2 linked regions of the Homo sapiens genome follow. The protein of the gene in region 1 interacts with the protein of each later gene in a pairwise test. Each region holds a gene or a part of one and is shown on either strand. Other genes may lie near its edges. The genes, in order: MLC1 and ATXN10.

What was found.
Region 2: the proteins of MLC1 (region 1) and ATXN10 interact in binary tests that used the Homo sapiens proteins (3 or more experiments, as listed by UniProt).

The regions. Positions count from the first base shown.
Region 1 is NC_000022.11:50,082,162-50,097,600, reverse strand, and holds the start of MLC1 (membrane protein MLC1), read left to right. Parts: upstream 1-12,174; 5' UTR 12,175-12,246; exon of another isoform or gene 12,247-12,639; 5' UTR 12,640-12,698; coding exon 12,699-12,875; intron 12,876-14,427; coding exon 14,428-14,517; intron 14,518-15,439. Other genes in the region: RNA helicase Mov10l1, read right to left, coding at 5,416-5,600, 7,416-7,512. UniProt on the Homo sapiens protein: Transmembrane protein mainly expressed in brain astrocytes that may play a role in transport across the blood-brain and brain-cerebrospinal fluid barriers. Regulates the response of astrocytes to hypo-osmosis by promoting calcium influx.
Region 2 is NC_000022.11:45,662,606-45,678,667, forward strand, and holds the start of ATXN10 (ataxin-10), read left to right. Parts: upstream 1-9,228; 5' UTR 9,229-9,458; coding exon 9,459-9,574; intron 9,575-16,062. UniProt on the Homo sapiens protein: May play a role in the regulation of cytokinesis. May play a role in signaling by stimulating protein glycosylation. Induces neuritogenesis by activating the Ras-MAP kinase pathway and is necessary for the survival of cerebellar neurons.

The sequences.
Region 1 (15,439 bases):
GAATAGTAAAGAGACCCAGAAATAAACCCTTGCATGTGCAGTCAATTGATTTTTGACAAGGACCATTCAATAAACTGCAATTGTGCAGTCTCAAAAAAAAATAGTGCTGGGAAAATAACCATGGGCAAAATAATAAAGTTAGACTCTCGTTTTACACCAAACACAAAAATTAACTCAAAATGGATTAAAGAGGCCAGGCGTGGTGGCTTACCCCTATAATCTCAGCATTTGGAAAGGCGTGGGATGGGCGGATCACTTGAGCCCAGGAGTTCGAGACCAGCCTGGGCAACATAGAGAGGCCCCATCTCTACAAAAAATACAAAAATTGGGTGAGGCAGCACACACCTGTAGTCCCAGCTGCTCAGGTGGCTAAGGTGGAAGGATCACTTCAGCCTGGGAGGTTGAGGCTGCAGTGAGCTGTGACTGTGCTGCTGCACTCCAGCCTGGGCAACAAAGTGAGATCCTGTCTCAAAAAATTTTTTTTAATGAATCAAAGACTTTAATTTAAAAGCAAAAACTATAAAACTCTTGGTAGAAAAAAATCTTCATAATCTTGGATTAGTCAATGGTATCTTGAGTGTGACATCAGAAGTACATGCAATAAAAGAGACAAATTAGACTTCCACCAAAATTTAAAACATCTGTGCATCAAAGGATACCATGAAGAAAGTGAAAAGACAATTGATAAAATGAGAGAAAGTATTTGCAAATCATGTATGTGATGAGAGATTAATATCCAGAATATATAAAGAATTCCTACTACAAGAAAACAACCTAATTTCAAAACGGGCAAAGGATTTGAGTAGATATTTCTCCAAAGAAGATATATAGATGGCCAATAAGCACATGAAAAGATGCCCTCACAAATCATTAGGGAAATGCAAATCAAAACCACAGTGAGATACTACCTCACAACTACGAGGAATAGCTACTGTCAAAAGAAAAAAAAAGAAAAAGAAAATAGCAAGTGTTGGCAAGGATACAGAAAAAGTGGCAGCCTCATGCACTGTTGGTGGGAACATATAACGGTGCAGCTGCTGTGGAAAACATCTGGTTCCTCACAAAGTTAAACCTAGACTTACCATACAGCCCAGCAATTCTCTTCCTAGGCGTAGCCCCAAAAGAACTGAACAAGGACTCAGACAGACTTGTTCATGGCAGCACAATTCACAACAACCAAAAAGTAGAAACAACCCAAGTGTCCATCAACAGATGAATGGAGAAACAAAATGTGATTTATTCACACAATGGAATATTCAGCCATAAAAAAGGAATTAACTTTTGATACATGCTACATGGGCAAATCTTGAAAACAGAAGTCAAATAGCCAGACACATGATTCCGCTTATATGAGGTATTTAGAATGGGCAAATTCATAGAGACATAAAGTAGAACACTGAATAACTGTTTAATGGGTACAGAGTGTCTACTGGGATGCTGAAAAAGTGCTGAAGACAGATTGTGGTGATGGCTGCGCAACAATGTGAACGTGCTTAATGCCACTGAACCGTACATTTCAATATGGTTAAAATGGTATATTACGCATATTTTACCACAAGAAAAATATCTAAATAAAAAATAAATCCAGAAGTACATTCAGGTTTATACCAAATGGGGATCATTCCCATCAAGTGAGAACGGCTCACAACACAGAAACTGTATTTTCCACCATATTAATAGCAAAGGGACAGAAACTATGGGATCATTTGGAAGATACTGAAAAGTACTTGAAAAATCCATTACTAATTTATAAAAGCAAGATTGTGAGTAGAGATGAACCCTCTTCACCATAACAAAAAAGGTCCTGCATTCCTTACAAGATGGAACAAGTGAAGGGCAGCTGACCACCAAGAGGGCTGGGATTTGCTGGACACCCAGGGGCCAGTTTTTCCACATTGTCACATTTCTGAGATCAGAATGAGTCTCACAACCTACGTTTCCATTTTAAATTTTCATTATCAAATTAATGGTGTATCTTAAAATCAACGGGAATTTGGTATGAGAACCTGCTTTGGAAGGCCGCGTGTGAGTACACGACCACAGCTCAGAGAATGAGGTAAACATCATCTCTACAGGTTCTGGGTTCCAGATCCTCTTTCAAAGATTCTGAACCCAGAGTACTCCTTTAAATACACACAAAAACATGAGGACTATCGTATAATTTCAAGTTCAAAAGGAAATCTTTGGAGGAAAAAATATAATTAAATAATTGGGAGAGGAAAAGAGGGTAGTGTGAATGAGCCAGTTGTACATCTCTGATGATGGAAGTCCATAAATACTAACATTGGTGAATTAATAAAAGATACAAGCATATTGTTTAAGTGACTCAACTATCTACCAGATAAGGTAGAAACAGAAACCCAGAAGAGCATCAGGTCTGCAGCATGAAAGTGCAGGTGGGGAACGTGGAGGGAGGCTCTTCTACTTTGCATTCACAGTCTCTAAGCCAGAGCTGACAGAAATGTTCTCTATGTGTGCTGCCCAATTTGGTAGTCACTAGGCTTCAGTTAGCACTTGAAATGTGGCCAGGGAAACTGAGGAAACACTTTTATTTATTTATTTTTAAGAGACAGGGTCTCTATGTGCCCAGGCTGGTCTCGAACTCCCGCCTCAGCCTCCCGAGTGCTGGGACTCCAGGTTTATGCCACCGCGCCTGGCTGTAAGTTGCATTTAGTTTTAATAAATCGAAACTGCTGCACATGAGTGGTGGCTACCATATTGAATGATGGAATTCTAGACTTTGAATTATTTTATTGGGTATGCTTTTTTTTTAATTTGAGAAAGATGATACTAAGCATTAGATGGTACTAACTATAATAGTATAATAAAGTACATCTCAAGTATTTTTAAAAAGTAGTTAATAGCTCAATACGTTTGCCAGATTCCAAATTACATTTAAAAATCGCTGGGCATGGTGGCTCATGCCTGTAATCCCGGCACTTTGGGAGGCCGAGGTGGCGGATCACGAGGTCAGGAGATCGAGACCATCCTGGCTAACACAGTGAAACCCCATCTCTACTAAAAATACAAAAAATTAGCTGGGCGTGGTGGCAGGCGCCTGTAGTCCCAGCTACTCTGGAGGCTGAGGCAGGAGAATGGTGTGAACCCAGAAGATGGAGCTTGCAGTGAGCCAAGATCATGCCACTGCACTCCAGCCTGGGTGACAGAGCGAGACTCCGTCTCAAAAAAAAAAAAAAAAAATTGAAAGCTTTCCCATACAGGAAGAAAAAGATTAATTTGAAAATACGATGGAAAATGATGTTAATAGAACACATAAAAACTCCTGAAAATAAATTTAGTAAGAAATTTACAGGACCTAAAAGAAGAAAACTATTGAACTATAAAAAGAATACAAAGGAAGGCTTAAATAAATGGACAGACATATGGAAAAGACTCCATATGACCCAAATATCAATTATTCTAAATGAAATGCATAAACTCAGTGCCATCCAAAGCAAATCTGGGCAGAGGGGGAGAAACAAGATTCCAAACTCATCCAGAACATGTGAAGAGCCAGAAAAATACCATATGCTAATAAGAGCAAAGAAGGGAAACCTGCTCACCACCTATCACAGCAACCATGCCATGGGGCCCCCTTACAAGCATCAGGACCACATCACATGCAGGTGGGATTCTGATACATGATTAAGGAATTTTCCAAATCAGCAGGGAAAAAGTGAGCTACTCAGATGACTGGCTAGCCATTAGGAAAGCAATGTCTGGTTCCTTCTCTCAGTCTGTGCACCCAAATAAATTCCAGGCAGGTCAAATATTTAAATATCAACAAACAGGCCAGGCATGGTGGCTCATGCCTGTAATCCCAACACTTTGGGAGGCCGAGGTGGAAGGACCACTCGAGGCCAGGAGTTTCAGATCAGCCTACGCAACACAGTGAGACGCCATTTCTACAAAAAAATTTTAAAAATTAGTCAGGTATGATGGTGTACACCTGTGGTCCCAGTTACTCAGGAGGCTGAGGTGGAAGAATCGCTTGAGCTCAGGAGTTCCAGGCTGCAGTGAACTATAATCGCACTACTATACTCCAGCCTGGGCGACAGCGCAAAGCTCTGTCTCAAAAATTGAAAAAAAAATTCTAATTGTCAATAAACAATTTTCAGAGTAAAATTTGAATATTAGGAATAAGAAGTGGAATAAGCCTCCCTAAGGCTTCTTACAGCATCCAAAAGCTACATGGAAAAGAGGCACACTTAACTACAAAAAATGAAACTATAAAACACAGTCAAAGATGATCCTGGGGAAAATATTCCTAACACTTTCATATAATAATTTTCCTTAAAAAGCTCTGATTTCCCTAATATATAAGCTTTAACAAAAGAAAAAGCTGAACTCAACAAAAATGTGGACAAAGGACCCAAAAATAATTCATAGAAAAAACATGAGGCCGGGCGCGGTGGCTCACACCTGTAATCCTAGCACTTTGGGAGGCTGAGGTGGGCAGATCACGAGGTCAGGAGCTCCAGACCATCCTGGCTAACACGGTGAAACCCCGTCTCTACTAAAAATACAAAAAAATTAACTGGGTGTGGTGGTGGGTGCCTGTAGTCCCAGCTACTCAGGAGGCTGAGGCAGGAGAATGGCGTGAACCCAGGAGGCGGAGCTTGCAGTGAGCTGAGATTGCGTCACTGCACTCCAGCCTGGGCGACAGAGACTCCGTCTCAGAAAAAAACAAAAACAAAAACAAAAAGAAAAAGAAAAGTTACCATACTTAAGGCTTAAGTGCAAATTAAGTGCAGTCTCTCATTCTGCTCCTAAGAGTATAAATTTGTATATTATTGATGTTACTTTGGTGATAACCATTAAATTGTTGAAAAAGCAAGAAAATAATGGATATATAATTGCTATGTTCTCCACAGCATAAATTCATAGGCAAACTTTACTTTCTAAAGTATACATGTCTATGTTGTTTGAATGATTTACAAAGACTGCTGTTTGTTTATTTATTGAGACAGGGTCTTGCTCTGTCATCCAGGCTGGAGTGTGGTAGTGCAATCATAACTCATTGCAGCCTTGACCCTCTGGGCTCAAGCGATCCTCCCGCCTCAGCCTCCCATGTAGCTGGGACTACAGGTATGTGCCACGACACCAGGCTAACTTTTGTGGGTTTTTTTTTTGTAGACACGAGGTTTCACCATGCTGCCCAGGCTGGTCTCTTAACACCTGAGCTCAAGTGATCTGCCTGTCTCAGCCTTCCAAAGTGCTGGGATTACAGGCGTGAGCCACTGTACCCAGTCTATTTTTTAAAACATAAATCATAAAGAGCAAAAGCATCCCCTTGAAGGTACATTCCACTCTTTCTCCCTTGGCCGGGTCATGTCTGATAGATTAAACACAAGGAAAAACAACACAAAGTCCCGTGGCGAAGAAAAACTGTTCCCAAATGAACTCAAACCTTACCCTGATTGCTTTCAGTCCATTGGACACTTTATTTTCTTCCACAACTGCAATCACTTCCTGTCCAACATTCAGAAGCACTCTGCTAGTCACAGCATCACTGGAGAAGTAGATCATATCATCAATCATGCCATAATCGCTGCAGTACCTTGTCACGACACCCCGTACAGTTTTCAGCTTAGTGTCACCTGAGGTAGGTAAACAAAGAAGTTATCTTGGCCATAAAAGCAAGCGTACGCTACAGTGAACCCCACCAGAGAAAGGCAGAGTGCAAAAGCCTCCTTTTTTTGCAGTTCGGAGGCACTGACTCCGAACGGGCTGACTTGAGACAGAGAGAATCCCATCAGAGAGTGCTGTGTCTGGAACGTGGGGTTTGGAGGCAGACAGCCCAGTTTCCTCAGAAGGGCACAGGTAGTGGTTGTGGAGGTGACAGCCCTGACTCCACAACAGACTGCATGGGGTTGACTCCTAGCTCTTCTACTGCCATTGGTGTAACCCTGGACTAGGTCCTTAACTACTCTGGGCCTGTTGCCATCTGTAAGATGGAGACTAATCGTCACTACCCAAGAGAGCTGCTGAAGGGTTAAGTGGCAGAACACACGTGCATGTATGGACCTCTGCGTGGCTGACACGCGTTAAGTGCTATGTAAATGGCCACTTATATCAGCATCTGGGAGTCATTAGCATGCACGGTTTTATTAGTACTATCGATTATCTTTTTATTACCATCAGCAGCAGCCTCGGAAGACTGGAGAATCTCAACAAACACGGTGCTGGAAAAGGTTCGGGGCTGGGCAGACAAGTCTGGCCCAGGAGCAGCGCACGCCCTCAGCCGTCTGGCCACTGCTGCAGCCACGGTCCTGAGTCCTGAACGTGCCTTTACTGCAGCTTCCCAGCCACGGGAGGAACCTGGGGCGACGGTTACAGTACAGGCATAGGATCTGAGCGCTGCCAAGAGCTGGAGCTCCAGCTACCGCTGAGCGCGTGTTCTACCGAAGAGATCCACGGAGCAAGTGCTCCAGGTAACACAGCCGGCCCCCCGGGCATCGGCCCTCGTGGATCCAGAGGCCCTGAACACGCTGCCTGCAGCAGGAAGCTCCCCTCCTGAAGCCTGTTCCTGTCTTTTCTCACAGAAGGCAATTAGGGACCCACTACTGTGGATTCCATTCCCACATAAGGAAACATCGGGAGAAGCCATCAGAACCTCGGGAGAGGTCGGGCGTGGTGGCTCAAGCCTGTAATCCCAGCACTTTGGGAGGCCAAGGTGGGTGGGTCACCTGAGATCAGGAGTTCGAGACCAGCCTGACCAACATGGCGAACCCCCCCTCGACTAAAAATACAAAAATTAGCCGGGCGTGGTGGCGGGTGCCTATAATCCCCGCTGCTCGGGAGGCTGAGGCAGGAGAATCACTTGAACCCAGAAGGCGGAGGTTGCGGTGAGCCGAGATTGCGCCACTGCACTCCAGCCTGGGCAACAAGAGCGAAACTCCGTCTCACACACACACACACACAAACACCTCAGGAGAAAGGAACGGTGAGGGCATCCGGGCGCATCCCGGGCTTTAGAAAGATGGGCTTGAAAACCAGACAAGGAAATGGCACGCCTTGGCGCAGCGCGTTCTGAAAGGACAGGCCAAGTCTGCGGGGCCGCGTTTTTCGGGGCTTTCTAGACACACCACCGCCAATGACGCTGCGGACAGGGAGGAACGACATGGAGAGACGACTTGGCAGCTGCTCGGCGTAAACACACAAAGTGAGGGCGGGAAGAGGGGCTGGTGTCACCGGAGAGACCTCACAGAGGACGGGCGCCCAGAGCGGCGGGATGCTGTGGGGTCGGAAGCCTCCTGAGGCGAACGGGGATCCCCGCCAGCGGAGATGAGGAAAGGCCGGGCCCAGCGTTGCCTGCCGGCCCGCACTGCACTCAAAGACCTATGGGCGCGGCTCCCTCGTGGCCGACACGCGAGGGCCCGGGACCCGCCTCCCAGCCGCCTCCCGCGAGCCACCTTCCGCGAGCTCGGGCTCCAGCTGCCCGGCTTCCTCCCTAGGGGTGTCCGCCGTCCTCCAGAAGAAGGCCACCAGCTTGGCTGCGAGGCTCAGCATGGCCCTCGCCCGGCCTAGGCTGCCGTCACCGCCGCTGCCGCCGCCCGCACGCGCCCGCGCCGCTCCCGCCGCCCGCCACCAATGGGGTCGCCGCGCCTGGGCATGCGCCTTGGGGTCGTTGCGCGAGCCGGGACCCGTAGCGGTCAGAGGTCGGCGGTTGGCGCCTGGCAGCTCCTGACAAGGCGAGGTGCCTGGTGGGAGTGACGTCATGCCGAGCGCGCAAGGCGGTGTGACCGCCGGGTGGGCGGGGCTTCGAGCGGGCGGGCGGGGCCTCGCGTGGGTGGGCGGAGCTTCGAGCGGGTCCGCCTTCTTGCCGCCCACACATTAGGGAAAAGTGCGCTTTCACCACCCAGAGTGATGTTAGGAGTCGTTTTTTGTTGGTGTTTTTTATCAAGTTGAGGAAGTTCCCTCTATTCCTGTTTTTCCAAGAGTTCTTATGAGTGGGTGTGAAATTTTCTGCAACGCTTTTCTGCATGTATTCAAATGATCCTGTAGCTTTTTATTTCAGCCCATAGGGAATTACATTGTTTGGCTCTCCTTGGAAAACTCACTTGGTCACGATTCGTTATCCTTTTGGTGTATTGCCTGACTCAGCTTGGTAACGCTTTGTCCAAGGTTGGGGACGGTGCTGGTGAAGCAGATTGCTCTGTGGCCGACCTCCCGTTTTCTGTGTCTGTCTGGTTTGGGGTCGGTTTAAGCCGGGCCTGCAGTGACCTGGGAGTAGGATGGGGTAACTTATTCCCTAAAAATTGTGGTAGTATTCGCTGGGGAACCCATTTGGGCTTCGAGATTTCTTTGTGGGAAGGTTTTTAATGAGAAATTCACTTCTGCATCAGCTAGAGGGCTATTCAAGTTATCAAGGTAATATTGAATAAACTTTGGTAATTCTTTTAAGGAATTTGTCCATTTCATCCAATTATTAGATGTCAGATTATTGGCATAAAGTTGTTCAGCATATTTCCTTATTATCCTTTTAACGTCTGTATGGTCCATAATGATGAGCCATCTTTCATTCTTGACATAGGTAATTTATCTCATCCCTCTCATTTTCCTTGATCAGTCTATATTTATCAATTTTATTGAGTTTTTAAAAAAAATCATCCCTTGATTTCATTGATTTTTCTCTATTTTAAAAATATCTTTACACTTTGCGAGGCCAAGGTGAGCAGATCACTTGAGGTCAGGAGTTCGAGACCAGCCTGGTCAACCTGCCAAAATCCTGTCTCTACAAAAAAATACAAAAAAAATTAGCCAGGCATGGTGGCGCATGCCTGTAATCCCAACTACTTGGGAGGCTGAAGCAGAAGAATCACTTGAACCCAGGAGGTGGAGGTTGCAGTGAGCTGAGATCACACCACTACACTCCAGCCTGGGAGACAGAGCAAGACTCTGCCTCAAAACAAAAACAAAAACAAAATACGTATATATATCTTTACTATTCCAGTGGTTTCTGTTTTTTATTATTTCTTTTTTTTTTTTTTTGAGATGGAGTCCTGCTCCGTCGCCCAGGCTGGAATGCAGTGGCATGATCTTAGCTCACTGTAGCCTCCACCTCCCGGGTTCAAGTGATTCTCCTGCCTCAGCCTCCAGAGCAGCTGGGATTACAGGCGTGCGCCACCACGCTGGCTTTTTTTTTTTTTTTTTTTTTTTTTTTTTTTTGTATTTTTAGTAGCGACAAGGTTTTACCATGTTGGTCAGGCTGGTCTCGAACTTCTGACCCGCAGGTGATCCACCCGCCTTGGCCTCCCGAGTGCTGGGATTACAGGTGTGAGCCACTGCGCCCAGCCCCGACTTATTTTTGATTGACATAGCTTTATTTTCCTAGGTCAGATCTGTCAGTCTGATGACAGCCTGGACCTTGCCTGTCCATGGATGCAGAGTGTACTGATAGTTCTTGCTGTGGGAAGGGAGAGAGTGGCGCACTCCCTAGCATTTCAAATCCCCGCTAAGCCTGTGTCTTGGGCTGGGTGCTGGAACACATACAGGAGCCAGCAGGGTCCCAGGGACCTACTGGTTGGTGGGAGATTAGCTTGGAAACAAGAGCGAGCTGCATGAGGGCTGGTGGCTCATGGGCTCCCTGCCAGGGCAGCTCGCAGCGGGTGCTGTGCCTGCAGGGCTGCCCCTCAGCTCCCCAGCTCGGGCCACTCCCTGGGATTCTGGACTCAGTAGACCCGGCAGATGCCCACAGACATCTCGGCCTCATCATGTCCAGAATGGAACTCCAGATCCTCGCTCCACACCTGCTCCACCCTGGTCTTCTCATCTCTGTCCTCACTGCTCAGACAGAACTCAGCAACGTCGCCCTGACAGCAGATTGCGTCCGCTCTTCAAACCCTGTTCAGAGCCCAGTCCCTCCTCACCACTTGCCCACTGCCACCTCAATGCCAGGCAGCACCTGCTCCTCCCACCCCCCAGCCTGCTCTCCACCCAGTGAGTGACCGGATGCTGCTCTGCCCAGACCCCTCCAGCAGGTCTGTCTCAGAGTTGAAGCAGAGTCGTCTCCATACCCACAGGTGCTGGCACCTGGCTGTCCTACCTGTATCCCCCTTGCATGGTCCTCGCCTGCCTTCCCCAACCTGTGGCCTTTGCTTCAACTCTGCCAGCCTCCCCTCCCTGCCTCCTTCTCACTGAGGCCTGCCCTGGCCCCTGCAAACAGCAGCCCCTCATTTCTCTCCCCTGACTTCTTTTCCCTCATAGAGGAAATCATGTGTGTCACTGGATGCATTAGTCTGTTCTCACGCTGCTATAAGGACATACCCAAGACTGGGTAATTTTAGAGTCAAGTCCTTATAAAGGAAAGAGCTTTAATTGACTCACAGTTCCACAGGGCTGAGGAGGCCTCAGGAAACTTACAATCATGGTGGAAGGGGAAGCAAACATGTCCTTCTTCACAAGGTGGCAGGAAGGAGAAGTCTTGAGCAAAAGCGGGGAAAGCCCCTTATAAAAGACCATCAGATCTCATAAGACCTCACTCATTGTCAGGAGAACAGCAGCATGGGGGTAACCACCCCCATGATTCAATTACCTCCCACCGGGCCCCTTCCACGACATGTAGGAATTATGGGAATTACAATTCAAGATGAGATTTGAGTGGGGACACAGCCAAACCATATCACTGTATAACACACTAATTTGTTTATCCTGTGCACTCCTGTGCCCCCAATGAATGTAAACAGCCTATAGGAAGGACGTCACTTCTTTGTCCACCCCATAAATGTTTGTTGAATGTTGAATGATGATGGGACATCAGCAGGCAGAGGGATGAAGGGCATTTTAGGAGCAAGAATTTGTTGGAAGATTGTATGAAAGAACAGGGCCTGTTCTAGAAACTAGTGTTGCCAACAGAAACTTGGGAGCATTTCTCAAGTGATGACTTATGATCTGGGAAGCTGAGGGATTTGCTCTGCAACCTCTGGTTCAGGGCAGCTTGTTTGTATTTCTAAGTGGAGAGCAACTTTTGAAAGAAAAAAATGTTGAAATCCGATTAACATTTTTTTCCAAACAAAAAGAAACACAGGAGGATTCGATCCAGTTGGACCCACTCCCACTAATCCCGTTTATCGCTTTAAAAGATAGTGAAGTTTGGGAGGTTTCTCAATCCATTAAAATGAGTTCTTGACTTCACAGATTATAGTTTTTGAAAATTATTTCTCATCCTTGCTTGATTGAAATGAAGACAACAGAACATTGGCTGTGGTGGCTGGCACAAAATTAACTAACCCTAAAATACTAGTATAGCTTAAACTTTCGTTTATTGCTAAAAATTTATCACTGCTGTTTCCTGTGGGGGTGAGGTTGAGCAAAGTGTTTTGAGCTGCATTTATGCGTACTTGACACTTACGCATTTTGATCGAGGTGATTTAGTGGGCATTTTCACTGGGACAGGGATGCTTGTATGTGTAATCTTACTAAAAGCTAATAAAAACTTACTAAAAGCTAATAAAAGCTTACTAAAAGCTTCTTGCTTGATTGAAACGAAGACAACAGAACATCCCATGGTCTGGAACCTGATGACTTTGCTCAAGTTTTAATGTGGGTTCATGGTTTAAGGAGCTGGTTTTTCAGAAACTTTAGTTTGAGCCTTTTTACAATGTGCACAAAGAACCCGTTGCTGTAGTTGTCAGGGTGCCAGTGTCTCTGGGCGACACACATTACTGTGGTTTTTCTCTGCTTGGTGAGCAGAGATAAAGGGGGCAGCAGGACCGGGCCCACCAGCCATCCGGGCTGCCCACGCAAACCACAGGGCCGAATCCGGAGCCGCCCAAGGCCACACAGCTAAGCCGAGTGCGTGAATGCTTATGTGACCGTGTGAAGGAGGTTCCCACCGTGTGGCTGTGGGGGATGGAAAAAGGCTACTTGGAAAGATGTAGAAGACCTTCGAGTAAACAGTTACGTTTCAGAAACAGAGCCTGCTCAGAATGTGTACTTGGTGGGATTCTATTCTTAGGGACGCTTCTTTCTTCTGAGAGACCCGAGCTCTGTGGCGAGTGGCACAGGCAGGGCCCCTTCCTTTCCTAGTTGGGTTCTGACAGCTCCGAGGCAGTGGTTTACACAACCAACACGAAACATTTCTACGATCCACCCGATTCCTCCCCTCATTGATATTCAGGAAGCAGCTCTCCTTCCCCTGCCTTCAGCTCAAGTTTGCTGAGCTTTTGTTTCATTTGTGAATACTTCTTGCTGGAAGTCCCTCACCCAGAGACCAGTGCTCCCAACGGCAGAGCAGCGGGGGAGGTAAGTGCTCAGACATTAAGCCGTTGAGTAGAGGCATGTTTTGCAATCTCTCGTTTAGCTACCAATTGGAGCAGTTTAACGTGCTTGAGTCCCCGGCGTGATGTGTTCATGGACGAAGTTGCCGATGGATGTTGTCAGGTGTTGCACCTGGAGGGCCCAGATGGATCAATGAGGCATTTAAAGTGTAGAATCTCACCCTGAACCCAGACTATTCAGGTCCGTTTTTCTAGGAAAGTTATTTCTTTTTCACTTTTAGATTCAAGTGCTCATTTTCTTCTTCAAATTTAGAGCACTTCAGTATGAACAATATTTCTTTTGTTAAAAAATATTTCTTGGAAACAACTTATTGAAGTTTCCTCAGAGTGGCCAAAGCCGATGATAATTTTATTCCAGATAAAGAACTGGTGACACGTGGCTGTACATTCAGCACAGCTGTGGTGTCCCCAAGTGCCATGACCCAGGAGCCATTCAGAGAGGAGCTGGCCTATGACCGGATGCCCACGCTGGAGCGGGGCCGGCAAGACCCCGCCAGCTATGCCCCAGACGCGAAGCCGAGCGACCTGCAGCTGTCGAAGAGACTGCCCCCCTGCTTCAGCCACAAGACGTGGGTCTTCTCTGTGCTGATGGGGGTGAGTAGCTCCACACTAAGCCCTTGGAGGGCCACGAGCATCTGGTCCCTCTGGTGACGGACTGCAGCGCCCTGGAGCCCCAGGTGGGACAGAGAGAGCAACTCTCAGACTAACCCTGCTGCTGCAGAACTCTTGGATGCCGACGAGCTTGTTTTGCTTGTGTTTTCACAATTATTTTTATTAATTTATGGGTGTCTGTTGTGCCAGCCTTGAGCTGCTCCAGGTTGTGGCTTAGTCCCACCAGGGTAGGGACAGTCCCAGGGCCATGAATGGGCCCCAGGAGTCTCCATGACCCTCGGCTCTGGGGGCCCAGGGTCCTCTGAGGGGTCACCTGCAAAGGTGGGAGGAGGCGTCTCAGGCCTTCAGGTCGGCCCTCACAGAGAGAACCTCAGGGACCTCCTCCTCCTAGGGAGGGCCTCAGGGGCCGGCTGGGAGGGAGCTGGGGAACAAAGGAACAGGTCTGGGGTGGACGGGCAGCGCCAGATGTCCGAGGGATTTCCCTGGGGTCCTGGCCATTCCCTGCACAGTCGTGGGCACAGAGATGATTGGAGGAGCCACTTGGGCCTGAGTGTGTGCAGCTGCTCAGAGCCATGCTGCAGGACAGGCCTCTATGCAGGGACCCCCGGTTCCGTGTAGCTTGGGCTGAGAATGAGATCCAGGCTGTGATTTCTCCCCTCCCTGTGCCCTGGCCTCCGCCGGCAGCCCCTGCAGCACCCACAGTGGTCCTGCCCACCTCCCGTGGCCTGAGCATGCCCCACCAAGACAGGCGTCTGCCTCGGAGCTGGGGACAGAGGCGGCTCCCGGGTGGTGGTGGCCATCTCCGGGCTCTGCCCTCCTCCACCTGGTGCCCTGGACTTGGTCGCAGCCCCTCCCCCGCCCAGGCCAGATCCCCTCTGCCCCAGACCTCGCTTCCTCTGCCAGGACCCTGGGTCCCAGTGACCTTTGATACTGACTCCCCTCAGACTCACCCCGGGGGTGCTGTGCGTGAGAGAGAGCCCCCTCCCCACCGCACCCCTGCAGTGCTGTGCGTGAGAGAGAGCACCCTCCCTGCCTCCTGCTAGGGTCTTCCCTGCTCAGGAGCCCCTGGGCCTGGAGCCCCTGCCTGGAGGGATCTTCTTCCAGATCTGGAAATTAGGTTCTGCAGACGGAGGGGGATGGGCAGTTGTTTTCCAGTCTCGTGTCTGGACCTGGGTGTGGGATCTGGAAGACTGCACGCACAACATGTTGGGGCAGGAGTATTTTGTGGGGAGAGGTGCCATTCCTTGCTCTAAATATTGGCAGATCCCCTTTCTTCTCTCCTCCAGATAACAGCGTGGGGGGTCCATGCTCCGACATGGCTGGGGGAGGCTGGTCCATGTCCTGGGCTGCGGCGGGGCTGCGTCTGTCCTACAGGAGGAGTCCAGGATGGGCGGGTCCCAGGTGCGGGTGTGGTTGATGCTGGGGGACGTGGGTGAGTCACCAATACACAGACAGTGAAGCAGAAGTTGAAGGGTCAGGGTCCAGCCTGGGGACGGGGCGCGTTGTAACCTGGGATTCTGTCGCTGTCTTGCAGAGCTGCCTCCTGGTGACCTCGGGGTTTTCGCTGTACCTGGGGAACGTGTTCCCGGCTGAGATGGATTACTTGCGCTGTGCTGCAGGCTCTGTAAGCAGCTTCCTCCACGCCTCTGCCAGTGCCCAAGCTCGCCGGCACGTGCTCTGGTTTCTTTGTTCTGAGATGTGCAGGTTTCTGTCACCTGTACCTCATTCAAACCTCTTCATATGGGCCGGGCACAGTGGCTCATGGCTGTCATGCCAGCACTTTGAGGGGTGGAGGTGGGTGGATCACCTGAGGTCAGGTGTTTGAGACCAGTCTGACCAACATGGACAAACCCCATCTCTACTAAAAATACAAAAATTAGCTGGGCGCGGTGGTGGGTGCCTGTACTCCCAGCTACTCAGGAGGCTGAGGCAGGAGAATCGCTTGAACCTGGGAGGCGGAGGTTGCAGTGAGCCCAGATTGTGCCACTGCACTCCAGCCTGGGCAATGAGAGTGAAACTTCGTCTCAAAACAACAACAACAAGAAAAAAACAAAAAACTCTTCATATGACTTTAGTTTCACGTAGAGTTCATCACCTTTGAGAATTACTGATGAAGCAGGCCTGAACCTTGCTCTGCAGACGCCTGTGCAGGGAATTGCGTGTTGATTCTGAGCCTGCGGCTGCGTCCTGCCAGAGCTGGCAGCATCTGCCCTCAGGGGACTGGGACCTGTGCCCCACATCCTCCCAAAGCTTCATGTTGTGTTTTTAGAAACTTACACAGTGCCAAGGCCGGTGGAGGCACCCACTGATCCTCAGAGCAAGGGAGGACAGACAACCGCTGTCCCCTGGTCCTCTGTGAACCCCGGCCACTGCCTCCCCAGCGTCCCGGCAGCTAGAGCACCATGCTGGCTGACCCCTGGGCTCTGGCCCGCAAGCCATGGACCCCATGCCCCTCTGGCCCGCAAGCCGCGCACCCCATGCCCCTCTGGCCCGCAAGCCGCGGACCCCATGCCCCTCTGGCCCGCAAGCCGCGGACCCCACGCCCC
Region 2 (16,062 bases), 4.4 Mb from region 1:
ATGATAAGGTTTATTAAGTGGGCAGTCAGCTATACGGATATAATTAATTTGGGGATCCCCTCTATCTTGGTCCATTTCCTGCTGCTTATAACAGAATATCTGAAACTGGGTAACTTATAAAGAAAAGAAATTTATTTCTTACAGTTATGGAGGCTGAAAAGTCCAAAATTGAGGGGCTGCATTTGGCGAGAGGCTTCTTGCTGAAGGGGACTCTCTCCAGAGTCCCAAGGCAGTGCAGGGCATCACATAGTGAGGGGGCTGAGGGTACTAGCTCAGGTCTCTCTTCCTCTTCTTATAGAGCCACCAGACCCACTCCCAAGATAACCAATTAATCCATTATTCTATGAATAGATTAATCCATTCATGAGGACAGCTCTCATGAACCAGTCACTCCTTAAAGGCCCTACCTGTCAATACTGCCACATTGGGGATTAAAATCTCAACATGAGTTTTGGACAGGAGAAACATTCAAAGCATAGCACCCTCTCTGGCTCTTTCCCTTTTGGGATTTTTCCCATTCTCTTCAGTGTTCAATTTTCATACATTTACTTTTATGTTTCCCCAGGCCAGAAAGAATGCAGAGTTTTGCACATGTGCCCCCAACCATTGCTGTGCACATCCACGTGCTACAATTAGTCCCAGGCTAAAAGCTACAGAGATGTGAACCTACTTGTATAGCTCCCCATCTCCCTTCCTCCAAGTGAGGAGGTACTCCTCATCAGAGTCTGCGTCTGTTCACTCTCAAGCCCTTCAGGTGGTTGTTTTTTGTAGTATATCTAGGTTTTATGATTATTTACTATGGGGTACATAAGTGTGGGGGTCACCAAGTAGGGTCTTCGTCCATCTTACCCAGAAGTGGAAGTTTGTCATGAATTGGTCCGCAGAGCACTTTGAATAGTCCTGGCCTAAACCACTGTCTCAATGATGGCCCCATTCAGAATGGCATTTGCAAGTTTCTCTTCCATAGTTTTCTACCAGATGTTTATAAGTGAGGTTCAATACCAGATAATGTCAAAACTAATAGAGGAATTCCCAGTTCAGGCAGAGGGAGCACAAAGTGCCAATAATATCCAAATATTGTTTGGTACTGATTGACTTGACAAAGCTCATTTCACAAAAAACCGTTCTGGCTTTTACAGACTGTTCTCAATGGATTTCCCTTCTTTCCTGTCAATGGATTTTCTTTCTTTGCTGGCCTTTGACTTTCTGTGATCTTGGCTGCTGGGAAGTATAAGGCAGAGGAAGTCCTTAGGCAGGAGATAAACCTGGGCCTGTTCCTACAGAGGTGGTCTTTTGAGAGTCCTGGGGTCACTAGTTGGGACAGCAGAAGGCAAAAGTCCCAGGTAGTGTTATGATGGTTTGGAGCAGAGCCATGTCATGAATATTTTAATTTTTTATTTTAAACCCTATGAGACATTGTTGCTTTATGATTGTTTTGTACTTTGGATGTTCATTTAGATGAAGCGGATGGTAAATACCATTCTCAGTCTTCTTTATTCCTTTCTGTGTCTCTCATCTTCCATCTGGGATTGTTTTTGTCTCTAATTCACACTCTTTTGTATTTCCTTTACCATGGATCTGTTGGCAGTTATTTTTATTTTTCAGCACATCCAAGATAGCATTCCACTATTTTGGTTTCCAGTGTTTCTGTGGAGGATACAGCTTACTGAATCCTCACTCCTTTAAAAATAAACTGTCTTTTTATTCCCCTGTGGCTTCTTATCAGATTTTGTCTTTGTCTTTTTGCATAACTTCACTAGATGTGAATATATGGTGTGTTTATATTTAGATGTCTTTTCGTGTATTCTGCTTTCTATTCATTGAGCTTCTTGAATCTGTGGTTTGGAATCTTTCATCAGTTTTGGCAGATTCTCAGCTATTCTCCTAGGTATTGCCTCTGTTACAATTACATGTGTTAGACTTTCTCAACTTATTTTCTGCATCTCTTAGCTCTTCTGTATTTTTTGTATTTTAATTTCTTCATTCTGGATAGTTTCTTTCTAAATCTTCCAGTTCATTTATTCTCTCTTTAGGTCTCTCTAACCTGTTTTAATCCCATCAATTGAGTTGTTACTGTGTTATTTCTAATTTCAGTTCCAGAATTTCTATTTATTTATTATATAAATACACTATTTCACTTTTTATAGTTCAATACCTTGCTTGGACTTTTGAACTATTTCTTTTTTCTTTTTTGAGATGGAGTCTCACTCTGTTGCCCAGGCTAGAGTGCAGTGGCGTGGTCTCGGCTCACTGCAACCTCTGCCTCCTGGGTTCAAGTAATTCTCCTGCCTCAGCCTCCCAAGTAGCTGGGATTACAGGTGCATGCCACCGCGCCCGGCTAATTTTTTGTATTTTTAGTAGGGACGGGGTTTCACCATGTTGGCCAGGCTGGTCTCAAATTCCTGACCTCATGATCTGCCCACCTCAGCCTCCCAAAGTGCTGGGATTACAGGCGTGAGCCACTGCGCCTGGCCGAATTATTTCTTTGAACATAGTAAACCTGTTGTGTCATTGCCATGTTCCATTCCAATAGCTTAAGTTTTTGTGGATCAGTTTCTGTTGTATGTTGCTTCTGCTGGTTCTTATAATTTCTGGTTTCCCTGTAGAGTGAGTTATTTTTGTGTTGTTCACTCTATTTGAGAAGTATTTGTAGAAATAATTTGATGCTTAGGATGGCACATTCTTCCAAAGATGGTTTTCATTTGCTTCTGTCATGTGTCTAAATGTGCCACCATTCTGGGTCTGTCTTAATCCCAATTCAGGTGTTTTGGTTCCTTGGATCAACCAGGTGACAAAGAGGTTTTTGAAATATTTCATTTGGGTTTAAAATAAAAGTTTTTCTCATTCAGAGGATAGCTTTAAATAACTTGGCGTGACATTACCAGAAGTGAAGCTTTTTCTGTTTTATGAAGCTTCTTGTATAAGGCAGGGATTACATCTTTTCTCCATGTTTGGTAGAACCATATATAAAGTCAGCTGGTTTGAGGCTATATTTTGGTGCTTCATTTTCTGGAATGTATTTCCACCTTTGTTTGTCTAGTGCTCATACAATTATTTAAGATTCAGCTTACATGGTTTCTCTAGTTGTATTTCTTCATCTCTCCAGCTTCTTAGCTCTTTATACATCTTTTTTCTGACATGATTTATTATGCTATCTTATCAGTATATATTTCTGTTTTCCTTTAATAGACTCAGAGGTTATTCATGACTAAGGTATTATATTATTCATCTTCATAAGACTAGGTTCTAATATAGTCCATGATAGATGCTCAAATCTTCTGGTTAAATTGAAATATGAAAAATAAAATGTAAAATGGATTGGTAACAATCATAAGGAATAGCTTAATAACTTTACAAATTACATAAAAATAATTGATCCCCACAAGGCAACTATTACTAACATCAGAATCATCACCTCAAATACCGGTAGTCTATTGTCAGTCACTTATTACCAATTATATCTTGACCGTACTCACGATTTCCTACGTGTTTCCTACTGTTTCTCATTTGCCCAACTACCTAACAGCTTTTGATCTCCTTGCCCACTTCGTTCTTTCTACTTTCTCACTTTTACACCACACAGTTCGCTGTTAACACGTATTGAACTAAGCTAAATATATGACAGACTCTGAATTGACTATCATCAAATCTTCCCAACAATTTAATTAAATAGGTGCTATTACTATTCCATTTTACAAATGAAAAAAAAAAGGCTTAAAGAGATGGTTACTTGTCCAAGTTCAGGTGCTAAGAGATAAAAGAGGGATTCACATCACCCAGGTCTGTCTGACTCCAGAGCTCATGTTCTTTACCAGAAGTTGGCAAACCTTTTCTAAAAAGAACCATATAGTTAATATTTTAGGCTTTGGAGGCCATACAGTCTCTGTAGCAACAAGTCAATTCTGCCACTTTAGTGCCAAAATAGCCACAGAGAATATGTAAATGAATGACTATGACAGTTTCTAACACAATTTTATTTACGAAAATAGGTGGCGGGAAGAGTTTGGCTCATAGGTGATAGTGTGCCAATCCCTGCTCTGAACAAGTACACTACTCTGTTATTTTTTTCTCCTTTTTCTCAATCTCCAGAGTTTTCCATTCAACAGATATTGATAGCATTGCTTCTAAGCACAGGGCTGGGATGAAGATGAGAAAATCCCTGCCTTGAGGGACCTCAGATGTGGAAGAGGAGGGCATAAACACACATCTATAGCACAGGCTGACTATGGAAAGTCAGTGCCAAAAGAGAGGCACAGGCTGACCAGAGATTCTTCTGAAGAACACATGAGATCTTGTGGAGTTGGTGATATATGACAAAAGCTTTCTAGCAAGAGCATCGTAGGCAGAGATGCTAAGAAGGATGTTTCCAACAGAAAAGCCAGCAGAAGCACACATTTTTCTATCCACTTGTCACTTATCTTCTACTCAGTCTCTCTTTTTTTTTTTTTTTTTTTGAGACAGAGTCTCGCTCTGTTGTCCAGGCTGGAGTGCAGTGGTGTGATCTCAGCTCACTGCAAGCTCCGCCTCCCAGGTACACACCGTTCTCCTGCCTCAGCCTCCCGAGTAGCTGGGACTACAGGTGCCCACCACCATGCCTGGCTAATTTTTTGTATTTTTAGTAAAGACGGGTTTCACCTTGTTAGCCAGGATGGTCTCGATCTCCTGACCTCATGATCCACCCGCCCTGGCCTCCGAAAGTGCTGGGATTACAGGTGTGAGCCACCGCACCCGGCCTCATCTTCTATTCTCTTTACCAGTATTCACTTACTTCCTCTTTCTTTTCCTTGCCAAAATCATATGCACTTTGGTCCAAATCTGTTTTTGCCTTGCACCTCATCTACTTTCTTCTCTGATTTTCTTTTTTGCCTTCCTTCCTTTTCTTTTCTTTGTATTTACTTCCTTCTTGATTACTGAGTCATTGCTGATTCAATTCTTCTGCAGTGGGCTCAAGGTACAAATTTATATCACAAATTTCATTTGAAGTCGAATTCACGTACATCAACATGGTGGCATGTTCATCTGGTTTGTCTAAGTCAAACAGCTATATAACATTAACAATGTCATTTAGCCCTAGTGAAATATTAACTTGGTTCTGTCAATTCAGTCAAGGTTGAAATCCTCTAGTCGATTTTGGGCAGTCAATAACATCCACTGTTTGACCAGTTTAATTTCCTTTCGTTTCTCTTATGCGTATTTCTACTTTTTGTCTGTCCTGTTAATCTCTCTGTTTTAATCTTTTCCCTTATAATTTTTCTTCTTTTTCCATCAGCCTCCTTTTCTGTACTTTTTGGATTATTGCACTTCTTCTAGAGGCATGCTATCTCCTTTCTCCTTTCTGCAGATATATATATATATATATATATATATGTATATTTATTTATTTATTTATTTAGAGATGGAGTCTTGCTCTGTCACCCAGGCTGGAGTGTAATGGCGTGCTCTCAGCTCACTGCAACCTCTGCCTCCCAGGCTCAAGTGATTCTCCTGCCTCAGCGTCCTGAGTAGCTGGGATTACAGGTGCCTGCCACCATGCCTGGCTAATTTTTTTCTGTATTTTTAGTAGAGATGGGGGTTTCACCATGTTGGCCAGGCTGGTCTCAAACTGCTGACCTCAGGCGATCTGCCTGCCTCCGCCTCCCAAAGTGCTGGGATTACAACCGTAAGCAGGCATGAGCCACCGCGTCCGGCCTCTGCTGATATAGTTAAAAAGATTCTTTGTTCATTAATTCAACTTTTATTGAGCAATTACCACATAGTAGGTCTTTTTCTAGGTGCTGGGCTGGAGATACAAAAATAACCAAAAGAGACAAAAATCTCTACCCTTGTAGAGCTTACATTCTAGTAGTAAGTGAAATAGATAAGCAACAATAAACAAAATAGAAAAGTAAGTTATATATCAAGTATTAAGTGCTATGCGGAAAATTCCTGGGGATCAGGAATTTGGGTAGCCTGTTACAATTTTAAATAGATTGATCAGGAAGGTTGTTAAAAGATCATTTGAACAGGTAGTTGAAGGAAATAAGGAAGCAAGTCATGGAGATGTTTGTGAGGAGTTGTTCTATACAAAAACAAAAACAAAAACACCAGCATATACAAACTCCTAAGGCAGGAGAGTTCTTTTCCTGGTGGAGTTATGGGATTTAAAAAAAAAAAAGGAAAAACAAAACTTTATCTGAGGAATATGATCTCCTTTAAATGATCGGGCCTAGAGAAGCATTGGAATGAAACACCAATCATGTCTCTCCTCCTTGAGCTGAATACTTACCTCTTTTCAAAAGGAATTATTACTATTTTTTAAAGACAGGGTCTCTCTCTATTACCCAGGCTGGACTGCAGTGGTGTGGTAATAGCTCACTGAGGCCTTCAACTCCTAGGCTCAATGAATCCTCCCATTTCAGCCTCTGGAGTAGCTGGGACTATTGCCATGTACCACCATGCCTAATTTTTTAAAAATTTTTTCGTAGAGATGGGGGGTCTCACACTATGTTGTGCAGGCTGGTCTCAGACTCCTGGGCTCAAGCAATCCTCCTGCCTCAGCCACCCAAAGCACTGAGACTACAGGCATGAGCCACCATGCCTGGCCTAATTACCTCTTGAAGCCACATTCTATTTGGCCTCTAGACGAACTGATGTCAACTAGCTACACAATGGCATACAATCTATAGTTCAACATTGTACAGCCAATCATTAACCAACATTATTTCTTAAACCAATGAGAATTCATGACAAACAACCTTTTAAATCACCCTCTCTCCTGATTCGTCCTTTTTTCTTTAAAAAGTTGAGCTTCTCTTTCGTTCTCCAGAGCACTCCCCAAGGCAACTTGGATGTGTGTCCTGGACTGCAATGCTCACGTTGGCCCAAATAAACTCTTTATATTGATTTTACCTCAGCTTATTCCTTTTAAATAGACAGAGGACAATAAGGAGGTCAGTATGGCTGAAGCACAATGGAAGAGGAAGAGGCTAGTAGATGTGATTAGAGCCCACAGGGGCTGGAGGTGATGGCGAAGGAGGAGGCAGGTCATTTAGGGGCTTTTCTATTGGAAGAACTTGGCTTTTACTCTGAGTGAAATGGAAATCCCTTAGAGGGTTTTGGGCAGAGTTAAATGTTGAAATATTTTTTAAACGATCTAAAACGTAAGGAAGCAAGAGCAGAGGCCAAAAGACCAATCAGGAATATATTACAATATTCCAGGCAAGAAGTATGAATATTATAGGGAATGTTTTTCTGGGAATGTTACATTTGAGAATAAGAAAACTAAAGGCCAGGTTTTTTTGTTTGTTTGTTTGAGACAGAGTCTCCCTCTGTTGCCCAGGCTGGAATGCAGTGGTATGATCTCAGCTCAGTGCAACGTGTGCCTTCCAGGTTCAAGCAATTCCCTTGTCTCAGCCTCCCAAATGGCTGGGACTACAGGCACCCGCCACCATGCCTGGCTAATTTTTAGTAGAAAGGGGGTTTTGCCATGTTGGCCAGACTGATCTTGAACTCCTGACCTCAAGTGATCTGCCCGCCTCGGCCTCCCAAAGTGCTGGGATTACAGGCATGAGCCACCGTGTCTGGCCTAAAGATCAGGATTTTGGTGCATAACAAGTACATTTTACTATCCTGTGCTCCTCAAGGGAAAATTAAGAGATTTTTGCCCTGTTAGCTTAAGGAGTGTTAAACATTTTGCATTGTCTTGAGCACTGCTACTAATAAGTGATCTAATACCTGGCACATAGTACACCGCAATATTCGTGGAATGAATAAATACATACTCAATTAAATGGGTAAACTGAATGACAATATCAAGTAACTTGCTTGTGCAGCAGCATTCATTTCCCTCCCTCCTTTTTTTTTTTTTTTTTTTTTTTTTTTGATACAGGGTATCATTCTGCCACCCAGGCTGGAGTGCAGTGGTGTGATCACAGCTCACTGCAGCCTCGACCTCCTGGGCTCAAGTAATCCTCCTGCCTTGGCCACCCAAAGTGCTGGGATTACAGGCATGAGCCACCATGCCCCACCAGGATTCACTTTTTCTGCATACTCTGGTGGTGTTTATTGTTATCTTTACATTTTATTTAGCAAAGAATGTTAAAAGCGCCATGTTATAAGCACACTCCTACCCTCCAAGCAGAATGTAAAGGGTATGTATTTATATATTTTAAGTGGTCCCACAGCAATTTGTACAGTTATAGCAGTTCACAACTATACTCAGTTATGTTTGCTTCTCTCCTTCTCAATAGTCTGTGAGGTTCCTTCAGGTTTGGAACTGTCTTTTATTAATCTTTACATCTCCAGCACCTAGCGCAGGGCTTAGCAACAATTTTTGTTGAAAGTATATACACTGTAATAAAGGGCAGTGGAAAGAAAATATGTGAGTTATCAACACCAGCTAGAGAAGCCTTGTCTGATTCCTGTGAAATATATTCATTTCCCTTAGGAAAAAAAACAATTCTAACCCTATTGCTGTGTAACTTAGCTTCTTGACTTCGAACGGTATTTTAAGGCTTTGAGGAGCTGGAGCAATGTATACTCACTAGAGGCAAAGTGCCTGGTAAGTGGTCTGGTATTGATCAGCAATGATCAGTAAGTACTGGGAAGTGCGTTTTCAGGGCCTGAGACTTGCAAGCTAGTGACAGACCGCTCCAGCTTCCAGTGGACCCGGGCGGGGGCACTGATCAACCCACTTGAGCAGTGGGATCAAGGTCTTCAGCCTTAGCAGTGGGAGCCTCTGCCCGGCCCCCTTCGTTCCCGAGACCCTCAGTCAGCGTCTCCTCCCAAGAGGGTCCCCTCCACCCAGAATGTCCTCCCCTGGGGGAGACCACTCTGTCTGCGGGCCCCCTCCCACAGGAGGGCCCCTCTTCCTCAAGGTGAACCTCTGTCCCCGATACCCGCTCCCAAGACCGAGACCTTGTTACGGCCCCACCCTCCACAGGCCCCTTACCCCCCGGATCCCCTCCCCTGGGGGAGACCCCTCTGTCCGCGGGCACCCTCCTATAGGACGCGCCCCTCTTTCTCAGGGTGAACCTCTGGTTCCCGATACCCGCTCCCAAGACCGAGACCCTGTTACGGCCACATCAACACAGGTCCCCCTCCCCCCGGCGTCCCCTCCCCTCGGAGGAGCCCCGTCTGCGACGCTTCCCAGTCAATCACCCCCAGCATCCCTCCCCGCTCTCACCCAGAACTTCCGCCGCGCCCCCTCCCCTCAGGCGGGACTTCCGCCGGCGCCCCCTCCCCCGCGGCGCCGTCTCCTCCTCCCGCCTGAGGCGAGTCTGGGCTCAGCCTAGAGCTCTCCGGCGGCGGCGCAGCTTCAGGGCAGCGCGGGCTGCAGCGGCGGCGGCGGTTAGGGCTGTGTAGGGCGAGGCCTCCCCCTTCCTCCTCGCCATCCTACTCCTCCCTCCTCGTCATCCTCCCCCTTCGTCCTCCTCGCCTTCCTCCTCCTCGTCAGGCTCGACCCAGCTGTGAGCGGCAAGATGGCGGCGCCCAGGCCGCCGCCTGCCAGGCTGTCGGGCGTCATGGTGCCGGCGCCCATCCAAGACCTGGAGGCCCTGCGCGCGCTCACGGCGCTCTTCAAAGAGCAGCGGAACCGGTAACGGGTCCGGCCGGGGGGCTGCCCCGGGCAGGGGAGGGCGGCCGGGACTCCCGCGGCGGCCCCGGCCTGGACCCAGGCGCCGCCCCCGCCTCGCTGGAGACGCGGAGGGCGAGGCCTGCGCGGGCTGCCTGAGCGCCACCCAGGCCTCCCGACTCCCAGGCACCGCCTCGTGCTCGTGGGTCCCCGCGGGGCCTGGGGCGGGCGCCCCGCTCCCCCACCGCAGCCAGTCCGGGTGCGAAGCCGCGATCCCGGGAGCCCTTGCCGCGGCGTGCCGGTGATGTTGACCCAACACACGGTTAGGCCTCCCCTGTCATGTGCGAGGGCTGCGCCAGGCCCTGGCTGCAAGACCCACGCGGCCCCCAGAGTCATAAAGCGTGTGTTTTAGCGGGAGAGACCCGTGTTACGGACGCGGGAATTGGGCAGTTGCGGGGATGGCAGTCTCTAGGCATGGAGTGGGACTGGCACTCCTTTCTCCTCGGCGTTAGAGCCCAGGCTGCACCATCTGCCCTGGGGGCAGCGCTCTGTGCAGTGTGGAAGAGCACGGGCCTGGAGAGACCAGTCCAGTCCTGATGCCACTGAGGGGCAAGATAGCCAGGCAAAAAGAGAAGGTGCCCAGGAGTCGACAGTTGTGGATTTGGTTCCTGGCCTTGCAAGCTGCGTGTTACTGTGCAGTTTCTCCAGGCCTTAGAATTCTTGTCTAAAAATGGGACTATAATACACAGCTTAGTTGCTGGATTGTACAGAGGAATAAATGAAATAAAGTACGTGAAAATATAAAATGTGCGAAGCCCTCAGTCAATGCTTGTTTGATCTTGTTCTGTCCTCTGGGCCTCAGTTTTCTTGTCTATTTAATGGGAGTAAAGTTGAACAGTACCTCCCTGGTGATAGTGTCATAAGGAGTAAATGAGATATAATGCATATTAAATCCTTAGGACATACCTGTACATAGCACTAAATGTAGCTGATATTATCACTTAACACATTGATTGGTAGTTACCCATGTATCAGCTATTGTGCTAGGTGATGGGGTAGGAAAATGGAAAGTCCTTGCTCTCTCCTGTACTAGTATGTACAAGATAACACAGCTGTGGGGGTATGTATGTACAAAGCAGAGGGAACATTGAAGAAAGAAATACTGAGACTTGGGTCAGCCTAGGTGATCACTAGAGGACTTCCTCTCTTTAAACTAGACACCTGGTCTGAGCACTTCCTTTACCTCACATCACTTTGGGAAATGTGGAGCTGCTGAAGGAATGCTATTAATAAAAGTCCCTGGTACTGCTCTATGGGCCTTTGGGGGAGATGTATTTATTGATTTAATGCTTAGGCATTTCTGTATCATGATGGACCCTCCTTTTAGTTAATAACCCAGTCATCAACCATTTATTGAGCACCTACTATGAAACAGATTTTTTTGTTGGGGTCTGAGGGTACAGAGAGGAATGATGTGAGTGATCCCTTTTATCAGGCATATTTGGGAAATAGCTAAATAAACACATTGTAATGGAAATCTATACAAGAGGTGGTGGCACAGGGGAGCATGTGGATATGTTGGAAGATTGGCGAGCCAGGAGAGGCTTTTTAAGGTTATTTCAGGTGCTCGGTTATAGATGAGAGGACTAGAGGGAACAGTGTCTGCAAAGGGGCCATATGTTAATTTTGCAAAACCGATGAGACAATTAAGTAACATAGATAAGGTTTCTCGTACAGAAGAGACATTTAGTCAGACATCAGTTCCCTTTTTATAACTTGGAGAAAATCCAAGCCCCTGAGCCAGTTTAGAAGGCCCTTCTTGACTCTATCTCTTGTGAGGGAAGAAGTTACAGAGAACCATTGATGGTTTTTGTCAAGGGAGTGGCGCGATAAGATCTGCCTGTTAGATCTTCCTGGCCGCCTCCGCCTCCATTGTGGGGAATAAATGAGAGGACGAAGCTAGAGACAGGGGGGACCTTTAAGGAGTGGTAGCGGAAGCCCATGTGAAAGAGAAAAGTGCCTAAATTAGGACATTGTGGGGATGAGTAGAATAAATACTGAGAGATACAAGGTTGAATGGACAGGACTCGGACCAGTTGGATTGTGGGGGGGAGAATGAGGAAATGAGGATGCTTCCCAGATTTCATCTGAGTTCTGGGACAGTGTCCTTGTTCCAGGCAGAGATTGGAGACCAGGAAAGGTGAACTGATGTGCAGGTCCTGGCATGGAAAGACACAGTTGTGTGGTGGTGCAGAGAACTCATGATCAGGGTTTATAAGGACAGGCTTCTGGTCCTGGTTCTGTCACTGCTTCTCTTTGTCTTTGGACAAATTATAAGGGTCTTGTGGGGCTGGGCCCAGACTCCTGCTCCTCTGAGAGGATCCCTCCAGTTCTGATGCTCAGGGAGCCAGTGTTTGTCCTTGGGGGTCTCCTCTTCAGAGAGGACATAGGGCTGTTGTCTAGTATGAACAGGAACACAGATGGATCCAGGGGGAGGATGGGCCAAGGTGTTAGAAGGTGGACGAGACAAAAAGCCAGGCAAAATGAGTCCTCAGTGTAGCAAATAGAAAACAGCAGACAAAAAGCAAAAACAGTGAGGAAAGTAATTAAGAGATTCTTCTCTTTTGGTGGAATACATTATTTCTCTAGGATTCCATTTTATATTTGAAGAATCATAGACATAATGTAGTTGGTGGTCCTTCTGAGCTCTTCCATGCTACAAAACAAACTTCTGTCAGTGGTAGCTTGAGTAATAGAAGTGTCATGCAGTGGGAAGAGCAGTGGCTTTGGAACCATGGAGACCTGGATGTGAATCCTGGTTTAGTTTGTGAGGCTTCTTGTTTCTTTCCTTGAAAACGGGATGATGGTAGCCACTTTGACAGATTATTTTGAGGATCTGTAATATTATATGTGTAGCATAGTGGTTTATGCATAGTAAATGCCATTTATTTAGGACCTGTTATTAAAATATAACAAGGTTGTAAGTGACCAAGAATCCATTTGTGTTGAATCTCCTGTCTTATCAGAAACAAAAATTGCAGCTATTTCAGGAAGACAGTTCTAATTTTGGGGTTTCCGGAGAAGGGGATCTCAGGATCTCATTACAATTTTAGCAGCCCCCAAGTGAAAAGAAATTCTTACATCCCATTGTGGGAATTTTAAATATGTCCACAAATTCTTTGATACTCTGACCTTCTCAAGAGGAGGAGGTTAATTCTTTTCTCCTTGAGTGTGGGCTGAACTTAGTGACTTGCTCCTGAAGAGTAGAATATGGTAGAAGTGACAGTGTGCGACTTCTCAGACTAGGTCATAAAAAGCATCGTAGTTTCCTCTTTGCTAGCTCTTTCTTGAATCACCCACTCTGACAAAGCCAGCTGCCATGTCATGAGGACACTCAAGCATCCATATGCAGAGAGCTGTGTGGTGAGGAGCTGAGGCCTCCTTTGAACAGCCATGTGATGAACTACCTTGGAAGCAGGTCCTCTGAGCTCCAGTCACATCCTCAGCCACGTGTGCAACCTCATGAGACACCCTAAGCCTCTCAGATCTGTGTGAGATCATAAATGTTATTGTTTTAAAATGCTAAATTTTGGGCTAATTTGCTATGTAGCAATACATCATTAATACACCAGTCTTAATTCTCCATGCTGTGTATTAAATGCATTCTGTAACCCACTTCTTAAACAGTGTCTTGGTCACTAAAATAATTTAAACATATTGCTTATGGTCATATAATATCAGTATTGAGATATTCCTCAGCTGTTTCTTCTCTGTGTAAGATAATTCTTTTTTCTCACATTTGTTTTATACTTTTTGTTTAATGTAGATATCACCGTATTTCACATTTGTTTAACAAGTGATTTATCTTGCTGTGAGTCTTTGCAAGTCATGTTAAATTCTTTCTGAACAAGTAAGACAAACATTTAAAATTCTATTTTAGTTGCTCCTTTAATTATTTTTCTTTTTTTTTTCCGAGACAGGGCCTCACTTTGTCATCCAGGTTGGAGTGCATTTTTTCTAGAGAAGGGGGTCTCACTATGTTGCCCAGGCTGGTCTCGAACTCCTGGCCTCAAGTGATCCTCCTGCCTCGGCCTCCCAAAGTGTTGGGATTACAGGCATGAGCCACCGTACCTGGCTAGTTGCCTTTATGATGCATCCATGAGGCATCTCCAGACCCCACAAAGTGTAGAGCCAGGTGAGATGGGTTGTCATACTCCATCTGTGCTGTTCATTAAGTAGCCACTAGCTACATGTAGCTACTTAATTAATTGAAAATAAGTAAAATTAATGTTTCATTTCCTTAGTTGCATTAGCCATATTTTTTAATTTGTTTTTTTTTTTTTGAGACAGTTTCACTCTTGTTGCCCAGGTTGGAGTGCAGTGGTGTGATCTTGGCTCACTGCAACCTTCGCCTCCCGGGTTCAAGCGATTCACCTGCCTCAGCTTCCCGAGTAGTTGGAATTACAGGCATACGCCACCACACCTGGCTAATTTTGTATTTTTAATAGAGACGGGGTTTCTCCACGTTGGTCAGGTTGGTCTTGAACTCCCGACCTCAGGTGATCCGCCTGCCTTGGCCTCCCAAAGTGCTGGGATTACAGGCATGAGCCACCGTGCCCTGCCCTTTATTACTATTTTTTTAGAGACAGGGTCTCACTCTGTTGCCCAAGCTGGAGTGCAGTGGCACGATCATAGTTCACTGCATCCTCGACTTCCTGGGCTCAAGCAATCCTCCTGCCTCCTTCCCCAGTAGCTGGGACTACAGGTGTACACCACCATGCCCAGATAATTTTTTTGTTTATTTTTTGTAGAGATGGGGTCTCGCCATGTTGCCCAGGCTGGCATTAGCCATATTTTAAGTGCTCATTGGCCACATGTGATGTGACAGCACAGATATAGAATATTTCCATCATCACAGAAAGTTCTGGAAATAGTGCTCTTCTGTAGTAAGTTTTCTATAGGGGAGATTGTATTTTGACTCTTGAGTATTCTTGAAATAATGGAACATTTGGATGCTGCTTTCTATAAATTCATCTCATACTTAAACTGATACCTCATTGGTCTTCCACCTGATGAGCTTCTTGAATGAAGTGGGCACATCACATTCACTGTATGCCTGGCATCTAGCATAGAGTTGATAGTGGCAGATGCTTATCAGTTTCTTGTGGAGTTGCTGCTATTTCTATAACTTATTACTCATTGCACTTGCTTGGTCTTTTTCTTAGTCGTGTAGACAGTAATTTTTTTTTTCAGCTTCTATCAGTATAGCTCATTTTTTCTCTTCAATCTGCTTAGACAAAATGAGGTTTTCGTTGGTGTTTAATTTAAAAATTAAAAAAAAATTCAGGCCAAAAGGTCTTAAAAAAAAAAAAAAGAAAAGGCAAGTCCTGGACTTAGAGAAGTATTTAAAATATATATGATAAAGAAGTTGTTTCAGAATATATGAAGTACTCCTACCTACAACTCAATAAAAAAGACTCCTACAACTCAATTTAAAAATTGGGCAAAATCTGTGCTTTACAAAGAAAAATAAAGGCCAATAAGCGTATGATAAAGTGCTCCAAATCACTAGTTATTAGGGAAATGCAGTTAAAACTTCAGTGAGAGACTACTGCATGCCGTTTAGGATGGCTATTATCCAAAAAATGGAAAAGAACAAGTATCGTTGAGGATGTGGGGAAATGGGAACCCTTGTGTGTTGCTAGTGGACATGTAAAGTGGTGCTGCTACTATGGAAAATAATTTGGTGGGTCCTCAAAAAGCTAAACATGGAATATGACCAAGCAGTTTTACTCTTAGGTATGTGCCCGAAGAAAATGAAAAAGGACAAATTCTGTATGATTCTGCTTTTATGAAGTACCTAGAACAGACAAACTTGTAGAGACAGAAAGTAGATTAGAGGTTACTAGGATTTGGAGAGAGGGGAAATTGGGAGTTACTGCTTCATGTTTACAGAGTTTCTATTTGGGTGTTAAAAAAAATTTTGGAAGTAGAGGTGATAGTTGTACAACATTGTGAATATAATTAAAGCCATTGAACTGTAGACTTAAAATGAACAACATGGCAAATTTTATGTTATATATATGTATTTTACCACAGTTAAAAAAATTAATAATACAATGTACCAAAATCCATTTAATTGTACGCTTTAAGTGGGTGACTTTAGTGTGCCACGTGAACCCTATCTCAATAGTGCTGTTATAAACAAATCCATAGTAAGGTGCCTCTGCATCCCTATTAGAATGGCTATAATGAAAATGAGTGACACTGAATTTTGGTGGGCATGTGAAGCTATATATTTATGATTTTTAAAAAGTCACATTGTTTGGAGTAGAGGGGATGTGTTTAAAATGTGAACTCCTCCCTCACTGCTATTTTTGTTTCATAATAAAATAGCCTTTTATGTATCTTTTTCCCTACTCAGTAGTGCCTTTCTTGAAGGGAGGGACTTTATGGTGTTTCTTAGCAGGGTGCCTGGCCCATTTTGGGTACTCTGTAAATGTTGAACTGAA